Linked DNA regions of Homo sapiens. The protein of the gene in region 1 interacts with the protein of each later gene in a biochemical or structural test. Each region holds a gene or a part of one and is shown on either strand. Other genes may lie near its edges.

Evidence for each region. Proteins that work in one complex are often made in the same cells at the same time.
Region 2: the proteins of CDC42 (region 1) and IQGAP1 form a complex in vitro, tested with the Homo sapiens proteins (6 studies listed by BioGRID and IntAct).

Annotation. Positions count from the first base shown.
Region 1 is NC_000001.11:22,083,709-22,087,208, forward strand, and holds part of CDC42 (cell division control protein 42 homolog isoform 1 precursor), read left to right. Parts: intron 1-2,730; coding exon 2,731-2,840; intron 2,841-2,960; coding exon 2,961-3,158; intron 3,159-3,500. UniProt on the Homo sapiens protein: Plasma membrane-associated small GTPase which cycles between an active GTP-bound and an inactive GDP-bound state. In active state binds to a variety of effector proteins to regulate cellular responses. Involved in epithelial cell polarization processes.
Region 2 is NC_000015.10:90,484,882-90,490,176, reverse strand, and holds part of IQGAP1 (ras GTPase-activating-like protein IQGAP1), read right to left. Parts: intron 4,148-5,295; coding exon 4,045-4,147; intron 3,224-4,044; coding exon 3,088-3,223; intron 2,683-3,087; coding exon 2,595-2,682; intron 1-2,594. UniProt on the Homo sapiens protein: Plays a crucial role in regulating the dynamics and assembly of the actin cytoskeleton.

The sequences.
Region 1 (3,500 bases):
TGAGTTCTTTTACCACTGAATGGTGTTGGCACCCTTATCAAAAATTATTTGACCATATATGTGAGTGTTTATTTCTGGGTTCCCTTTGCAGTCAGCCCTGTCCCTTGACCTGGTTCCAGGCAACCACTGATCTGCTTTCTTTGTTTCTACTGTTTTGCTTTTCTAGGGTTTCATATAAATGGAACCATACAATATGTAGTCTTTTGTGTGACTATTTTTACATAGCATAATGTTTGTGAGAGTTGTCCATGTTGTGTGTATTGGTAGTTGTTTCTTTTGATTGCCGAGTGTTATTCTGTTCTATGAATATATCACAGTTTTGTTTATCCATTAACAAGTTGATGGATGTTTGGGTTCCAGTTTTAATACTGGTGCTATGAATTGCTTCCACGTTTTAGCTATTTTGAATAATGTTGCTATCAACATGGGTATACAGATACCTTGTTGACACCCTGCTTTCAGTTCTTTTGGGGTATATACCCAGAAGTGGAATTGTTGGATCATGTTTTTAATTTTTTTGAGGAACCTCCGTATTGTTTTCCACAGTGGCTGTCCCATTTTATATTCCTACCAACAGTACGTGGGGTTTGATATAGTCACATTCTTCTGTTCGACACTTATTTCCTGTTTTTTTTTTTTTTTTTTTTTTTTTAATTGTAGCCATCCTAATTAGTGTGAGGTGGTATCTAATTGTGGTTTTGATTTGTATTTCCTTAATGATTAGTGATGTTGAGCATCTTATGGCCATTTATATATCTTTGGAGAAAGGTCTGTTTAATCAAGTTCTTTGCCCATTTTTGAATTGGGATTTTTTTTTTGGGGTAAGTTTTAGGAGTTCTTTGTAGATTCCGGGTATTAATCTCTTATCACATACACGATTTGCATATATTTTTTCCTATTTTGTGGGTTGCGTTTTTATTCTGTTGATACTATTTTCTGATGTATAAAATTTTCACAGCTTCATGAAGTTTGTCTATTTTTTGGTGGTTTGGTGTGATATCCAAACAAATTATTGCCAAGTCCACCTGAATCTTTTGCCCTATGTTTTCTGGGAGTTTTAAAGTTTTAGGTCTAACATTTAGACCTTTTATCCATTTTGAGTTAATTTTAGTATATAGTATTAGGTAAGGTTTCATCTTTGTCTTTTGCTTGTGAATATGTCATTTTCTCAGCACCATTTATTGAAGAGTCCTTTTACCACTGAATGGTCTTGGCACCCTTATCAAAAATTATTTGAGCTAGGCTAGGCACGGTGGCTCACACCTGTAATCTTAGCACTTTGGGAGGCTGAGGTGGGCAGATCACCTGAGGTCAGAAGTTTAAGACCAGCCTGGCCAACATGGTGAAACCCTGTGTCTACTAAAAATACAAAAATTAGCCTGGTGCGGTGGTGTGTGCCTATAGTCCCAGCTACTCAGAAGGTGGAGGCAGGAGAGTCTCTTGAACTGGGGAGGTGGAGGTTGCAGTGAGCCGAGATTGTGCCACTGCACTCCAGCCTGGGTGATAGAGTGAGACTCTGTCTAAAAAAAAAAAAAAAAAAGAAAAATCATTTGCCCACATATGTAAGGGTTTATTTCTGGGTTCTCTAGTCTATTCCATTGTCTTATATATCTCCCTATGCCAATACCGCACTGTTTTGATTATTGTAGCCTTGTAGTAAGTTTTGAAATCAGGAAATGGGAGTGCTTCAGCTTTATTCTTTTTCAAGATTATTTTGTCTATTGTCCCTTGTTTCAAGATTACTATCCCTTGTTGGGATTTTGATAGGGATTGCATTGAGTCTGTAGGTTGCTTTGGATAATGTTGACATGTCAACAATATTAAGTCTTCCAGTTCATGAATGTGGGATGTGTTTCCATTTATTTATGTCTTCTTTAATTTCTTTCAGCAGTTTTGAATTTTTTTGTTATCCAAGTCTTTTGCCTCTGATTAAGTTAATTCTAAGTATTTTTATTATTTTGAGTATCGATTAATTCTTGCTAAATTTGTTTTCTAGGCTTTATCAGTTTCAGATACCGGTCTTATATACACGCATTAACTAAATATGTGAACCTCTGTTTGTAGTCATGATGGGCAGTGGATTTTGTCATCTGGGTTTCAGTGAGGTTTTTCTTTCCTTAGATGATTTCACTGTGATTGTTTCTTTACCATATCTGAGATGGAGTCTCACTCTGTCACCCAGACTGGAGTACAGTGATGCCATCTCGGCTCACTGCAACCTCCGCCTTCTGGGTTCACGTGATTCTTCTGCCTCAGCCTTCCAAGTAGCTGGGATTACAGATGTGCACCACCACACCCGGCTAATTTTTATATTTTTAGTAGAGATGAGGCTTCATCATGTTGGCCAGGCTGGTCTTGAACTCCTGACCTCAGGTGATCCGCCTGTCTCGGCCTCCCAAAGTGCTGGGATTACAAGGATTGATTTTTAACCATTTCTGTAGCAAGAGTTTATTATTACATTTATTATTGGGTTTCTAATGGACACAAAGATTGAACACCACAAACTGGTAATAAAAGCAAATAACATAATAGTAAATTCATTGCTGTTCTGAGTGCTTGAAGTTTGTAGAATTAGCTGATTGAGAATATTGCCCACATATTATATTACAAAGCCATACATTTTATTAGATAAGTAAGTTGCTTTTTGAGTAATGACCAGCATGCTTTTAACACTTTGAGGACACCAAGATTCAGTTGCTGAATTCTCTCCAATATTTTTCTTTTTTCTAGGGCAAGAGGATTATGACAGATTACGACCGCTGAGTTATCCACAAACAGATGTATTTCTAGTCTGTTTTTCAGTGGTCTCTCCATCTTCATTTGAAAACGTGAAAGAAAAGGTAAGCTGATCAGATACTCTTGCCCTAAGAAGATCATCTCAGAATTTCTACTGACCTGTTATAAATAGCATTAGAGGCTTGTTGATTAACAAAGGTGTATTTTAAAATACCTTTTTTTAGTGGGTGCCTGAGATAACTCACCACTGTCCAAAGACTCCTTTCTTGCTTGTTGGGACTCAAATTGATCTCAGAGATGACCCCTCTACTATTGAGAAACTTGCCAAGAACAAACAGAAGCCTATCACTCCAGAGACTGCTGAAAAGCTGGCCCGTGACCTGAAGGCTGTCAAGTATGTGGAGTGTTCTGCACTTACACAGGTAAGAATGGCATGAAACCCCATGTGTATTTATGGTCGAGTCATTTATTAGAGCATTAGGATACAGGAGTTATTTCTAACAGTGATCAGCAGTGCTCAAAGATGCCCAGCAAGAATATGAACAGCTTCATATTGTATGTTCTTTTGTTAGAGGCCTCTGTGTTTTTTGGAGAATATTATTAGTTCCTAAACCCCTTGTGTTGGTAAGCTCTCGTATTGTACTGAATGATTCGTAGTGGTCAGGGTTGTGTTAAAACAAAAACCTTACAGGAAAGGTTCAGATAAGCATAAACTTGCAAGAGACGATGTGAATGATTTTTTTTTTTTCTAAACACTTAAATTT
Region 2 (5,295 bases), on another chromosome or scaffold:
TGGTGCCATATTCTGAGCTGTTTGTACTGGGATGTTTACATTCGGGATGGCTCATAGTTCAAACTTGTAATTCCCCCTAACTGGAGCAATTCCCTTTCCCAATAGTCCCCTTTTTTCTAATGTCAAGACTACTCTGCATCACATAATGTAAACAGCATAAGCTTTGGAGGCAGACAGAACTGGATCCACCTCCGGTTCTGTCACTGCAAGCTGATGATCTTAGCCAGTTAACCTGTAAGGGTCTTGGTTTCCTCATCTGCAAAATAAGGATGAAAAGACTCGACTCATGGGAATATTGTAAGGATTAAATTAAAGAACAGAGGTGAGAGCACCAAACACATACTAGGTTCTCAATAAAGACTGGCTCCTCCTTCCTTATTTCAAATTTCTTTCTAGGTTCAACATGTTTCAAGTATTGGTTTACATGTCCTTACTTGCCTTTCACACATATCTAATCAGTAATCAGTCATAGCAACTGACAGCTGAGACTTCATTGAAAACAATGGTTTCCAAATAGTTCTCTGTGCAGCCTCAAGAGTTTGCCAGAGGCATCACAGAGTCCTATAGGGCTGGATTTCAGATGCCCTATTGCTGGCTATCAGAGTAGCTCCAGAGTAGCAGAGTACCTGCTCTATATACTGGGCTTTTAGCTAAGTTGTCATTTAATGAAACAGATTACCATGCTTAAAATTTGAGAATGAATGACTTGACCTACTTTCCTTACTTGACAAATGAGAACAGAGGTCTATGGCCGGGTGCAGTGGCTCACACCTGTAATCCCAGCACTTTGAGAGGCCACAGTGGGTGGGTCATTTGAGGTCAAGAGTTTGAGACCAGCCTGGCCAACATCGTGAAATCCTGTCTCTACTAAAAATACAAAAATTAGCCAGGTGTGGTGGTTCACACCTGTAGTCCAGCTACTCGGGAGGCTGAGGCAGGAGAATCGCTTGAACCCAGGAGGCGGAGGTTGCAGTGAGCCAAGATCACGCCACTGCAGTCCAGCCTGAGTGAGAGTGAGACTCTGTCTCAAATTAAAAAAAAAAAAAAAAAAGAAACAAGGGTCTTAGATATGACATGACTCATCCAACCCTACAAAATGCCAGGACCCAACCATCTGCCCACCCCACTGGACCTTATCACACACCTATATGACTCAACTACATCTGCTCTAATAGCACTGCTGAATTAATTAACTTTTATTAAATGGTCTTCAACCTTACAGAGGCTCTTTATTCCTTATCTCTGCAGTGACAAATTCCCATCTAGTTTGTGAGTTCTAAATAATTTGGTCTCATGTTTTATTTCTCACTACTCACCTCCACCCACAGCTCCATTCTAGACATGTAGTCTAGTCGCATCATGCTCTTCCCTCCTTTGTACCTTTGTTCACATCGCTCTCCTGCCTCGAATGCCCTCTCTTGTCTTACATGCACACCCAAATCCTTTCCACCTTTATACATCTGGCTCCGGTTCCACTTCTTTTAGGAAGCTTCCTAATGCACTGCTTCACTGGCCTCTTTCCTGAAACTTCTCTTATTTTTCAGTCAGTAACATAGTTAATTTTGAAACAGTTCATCACTGTTTCAGGTATATATGTCACATTTCCCCAACAAGACCATGGGTTCACTGAGTTTAGGAGCCACATTCTGTACTTTTCTTCTATCTACCAAGGCATGTAACAGAATTCAAAATATATAATATTCAATAAATTGCAGTGAACCCTACACATTCATGGTTTCAACCAACCCTGAAACTGTTTGAAAAAAAAATACAACAATACAAAATAATACAAATTTTAAAAATACAGTAACAACTATTTACACAGCATTTATATTGTAGTAGGTATTATAAGTAGTCTAGAGATGATTTAAAGTATATGGGAGAACGTAAGTATATGCAAATACTACAACATTTTATTTATTTATTTATTTATTTATTTATTTATTATTATTTTTTGAGACGGAGTCTCGCTCTGTCGCCCAGGCTGGAGTGCAGTGGTGCGATCTTGGCTCAATGCAGGCTCCGCCTCCTGGGTACATGCCATTCTCCTGCCTCAGCCTCCCAAGTAGCTGGGACTACAGGCATCTACCACCTAGCCTGGCTAATTTTTTGTATTTTTAGTAGAGACGGGGTTTCACGTGTTAGCCAGGATGGTCACAATCTCCTGACCTCGTGAACTACCCACCTCAGCCTCCCAAAGTGCTGGGATTACAGGCATGAGCCACCATGCCCGGCCAAATACTACACCATTTTATATAAGGGACTTCAACATCTATGGATTTTGGTATTGGCCGGGGGTGGGGAGAATGGGTGCTGGAAAGAATCGCCTGTGGATACCAAGGGATGGATATACGGGATGGGCACAATGATTCTGCATGCAAGTGCCAGTGAGCTTCCTGTCCAAAGGACATCACCTGGACTCAGGAAGCAAAAACTTTCTCAGACGAGCCATAACTACCACTGTCCCCCAGTTACATTCATGCTCACCCCTAGGCTACCAACTGTTATTTGTGTCTCCCCTCCTTTCTCTGACATGCGCCTATCGGGAGAGCTTATCTACCAAACAAAGGAGTATGTTAGACCCTAAATTTTACCTGTTCACTGGTGGCTGGTGTTTCTAGGATTTCAGTCAAGGTCTCTCCTGGCTGGAACCGGATGACATCCACAATTAAACGTTTTGTACTGAAACGAGATGGGGGAGGCATTTAAATATTACCAGTGTTCTAGTTCCTCTCAAGTGGACCGAAGCAGCAGCAGCAGCAGCAGCACAAACAGTACCTCACAGAAGTCCCAAGCGGCAGCTGCCAGTACACAGTACTCAAGGCACAAGGCTTATTTACCCAGCCATTCCATAAGTAGGTACGAGGGTTAGGATTTCCAAGATTTACATTTCACTGTAGCATATTAGCAAAATAAGGCAGATAAGTCCTGTACCAAGTACAATATGCGAGGTGATTGGTGACTGGGATTATGACAAGTACGAGAGGTCAGGATGGTCATTTCAGGTAGGACCCAGCAGGTTCCTCTCCAAAGGCCAAGAAACCTTCAGATTACATTCATTTCATTCTTCCTTCTTTTGATACTCACTTCAGTAAGATGGTTCGAGCATCCATTTCTGCATTCTCATCTCCAGGCACGTCGAACTTGTTGGTCAGGGTGAGAGACACTTCCGTCTTAGCCAGTGCCTCCTTATTTGGGTCATTTAAATTGCCAGAGCTTTCCCCTGAAGTTTTGGGAGGGTGGAAAGAGTCAGCGTAATAAAGAGAGGAGATATTGGGGGGAAATAATACAAATATAAGATGATGCAAGTCTAAGATAATACTTGAATCACCTAACACATACAGTGTGACGAGAACAACTTTTACTGAGAAATAAAATGTTATGCCAAATGATAAAGGCAAGGGATCCATAATAACTCCATAAATGTTTGAGAAATCATTTCAACACTACAATATCACAATTCTCTCTGAAAACATTCTTTCTGGCTGGGTGCAGTGGCTCAGTCCTGCAATCCCAGCACTTTGGAAGGCTAAAGGAGGAGGATGGCTTGAGGCCAGGAGTTCGAGACCAGCCTGGGCAACATAGTGAGACTCCATCTCTATTAAAAAAAAAAAAAACAACTCAGGAGGATCACTTGAGCCTAGGAATTTGAGGCTGCAGTGAGCTATGACTGCACCACTGTACTTCAGCCTGGGCAACAGAGGGAGACCCTGTCTCATAACAAACAAACAAAAAAATTCTTTCCTTTAGAGGACTTTTAATTTATGTATCTGCAATTTTTTTAAAAAAACACAAGCTGGCAGTATGTATCTGCGTTTAAAATGATCTTTTCCTCTGACTCCAGTTCCTTATAGATATTGATCACATCTGGGCTTTTGTTGTTGTTGTTGTTTTCTCTCTTATGAAACTATCAGGATCACATCTATTTTATTTCTCAATGTATATCCAGAGTTTGGTATAGTGCAAAAAATAGAGGAGGTGACAATTACAACACTTTTCTGTCACATTCCCTTTTGATCTTCCAGGCAAAAGTTAGAACTCTACCTATCAGGGACTCGATGGTGGGCACCTCGCCGAGGTCGTCCAGCAGTTCGTGGATTGGATCATTGTGCTCCGGAGCAATGGCATCCTGGTGATCCAACAGGAGCTGCAAACACCAATGATCAACTCCATTTATACATTCAACTCTTCAGCCCGTCCCTCCCTAGAATGTCTAACAATGATCTGCACAAAGAGGTTCCAACAAAGTTCCTATATTCAAAGAAACAACAAGCAAATCCTCAGCAAACTAACCCAAATAAACAATATGATATATAAGGCACCACACCAGGCTCTGTTGAATGACTTATGTTATGATATAAGAAGAGGAAATACTGGTATTCTCTTAACCTCATGGCCATAAAGGATTCAAATGTGCCCTGTTTGAGAAAGAACACTGGCTGGGTGCAGTGGCTCACGTCTGTAATTCTAGCATTTTGGGAAGCCAAGGCGGGTGGATCACCTGAGGTCAGGCGTTCAAGACCAGCCTGGACAACATGATGAAACCCTGTCTCTACTAAAAATACAAAAATTAGCTGGGCGTGCTGGTGTGTGCCTGTAATCCCAGCTACTAGGGAGGCTGATGCAGAAGAATTGCTTGAACCCAGTAGGTGGAGGTTGCAGTGAGCCAAGATTGCGCCATTGCACTCCAGCCTGAGTGACAGAGCAAGACTCCATCTCAAAAAAACAAAACAAAACAAACAAACACAAAAAACCCACAAAACACTGAAACTCAAAGTTCAATACCCAAAGTCATCAATGTACCCTACTGCCAGTTCAAATAAGTCACGTGCACGCTTTTACTTAATGTTTCCAGTGTATGACATGATTTAATTCAGAGAAAAGTATACCAAATCAATGTTATAATTATTGTAGGGGCACTCAACAAAGTCTTCAAGGTGCCATTATCCCCAGTGATGCCCTCAGAAATGACAGTAACCTGAAATTTCATTTACATTTTAACATATGCCCTTGTTCCTGTTTTACATGTCCATGTCCCCAGAGGGGAAAAAATGATTTGAAAAATCTGAAGAAACATGGAGCTCCAGCTTCCAAGGGAAAAATCCACTCCAAGGCTACACAGAGAAAGCTAGTATTCTAGATCATGTTAGAAAAATAACGCAGAGAGCTAGGGTAAAAAGAAAGAAGAGTAAAAGCACTATTTTATTAAGGCAATAGATAAATTTAGTGGGATTTTGATTCAGTAGGCCTGGGGCGGTGTCCAGGAAACTTCATTTTTAACTATCAGCCCATAGG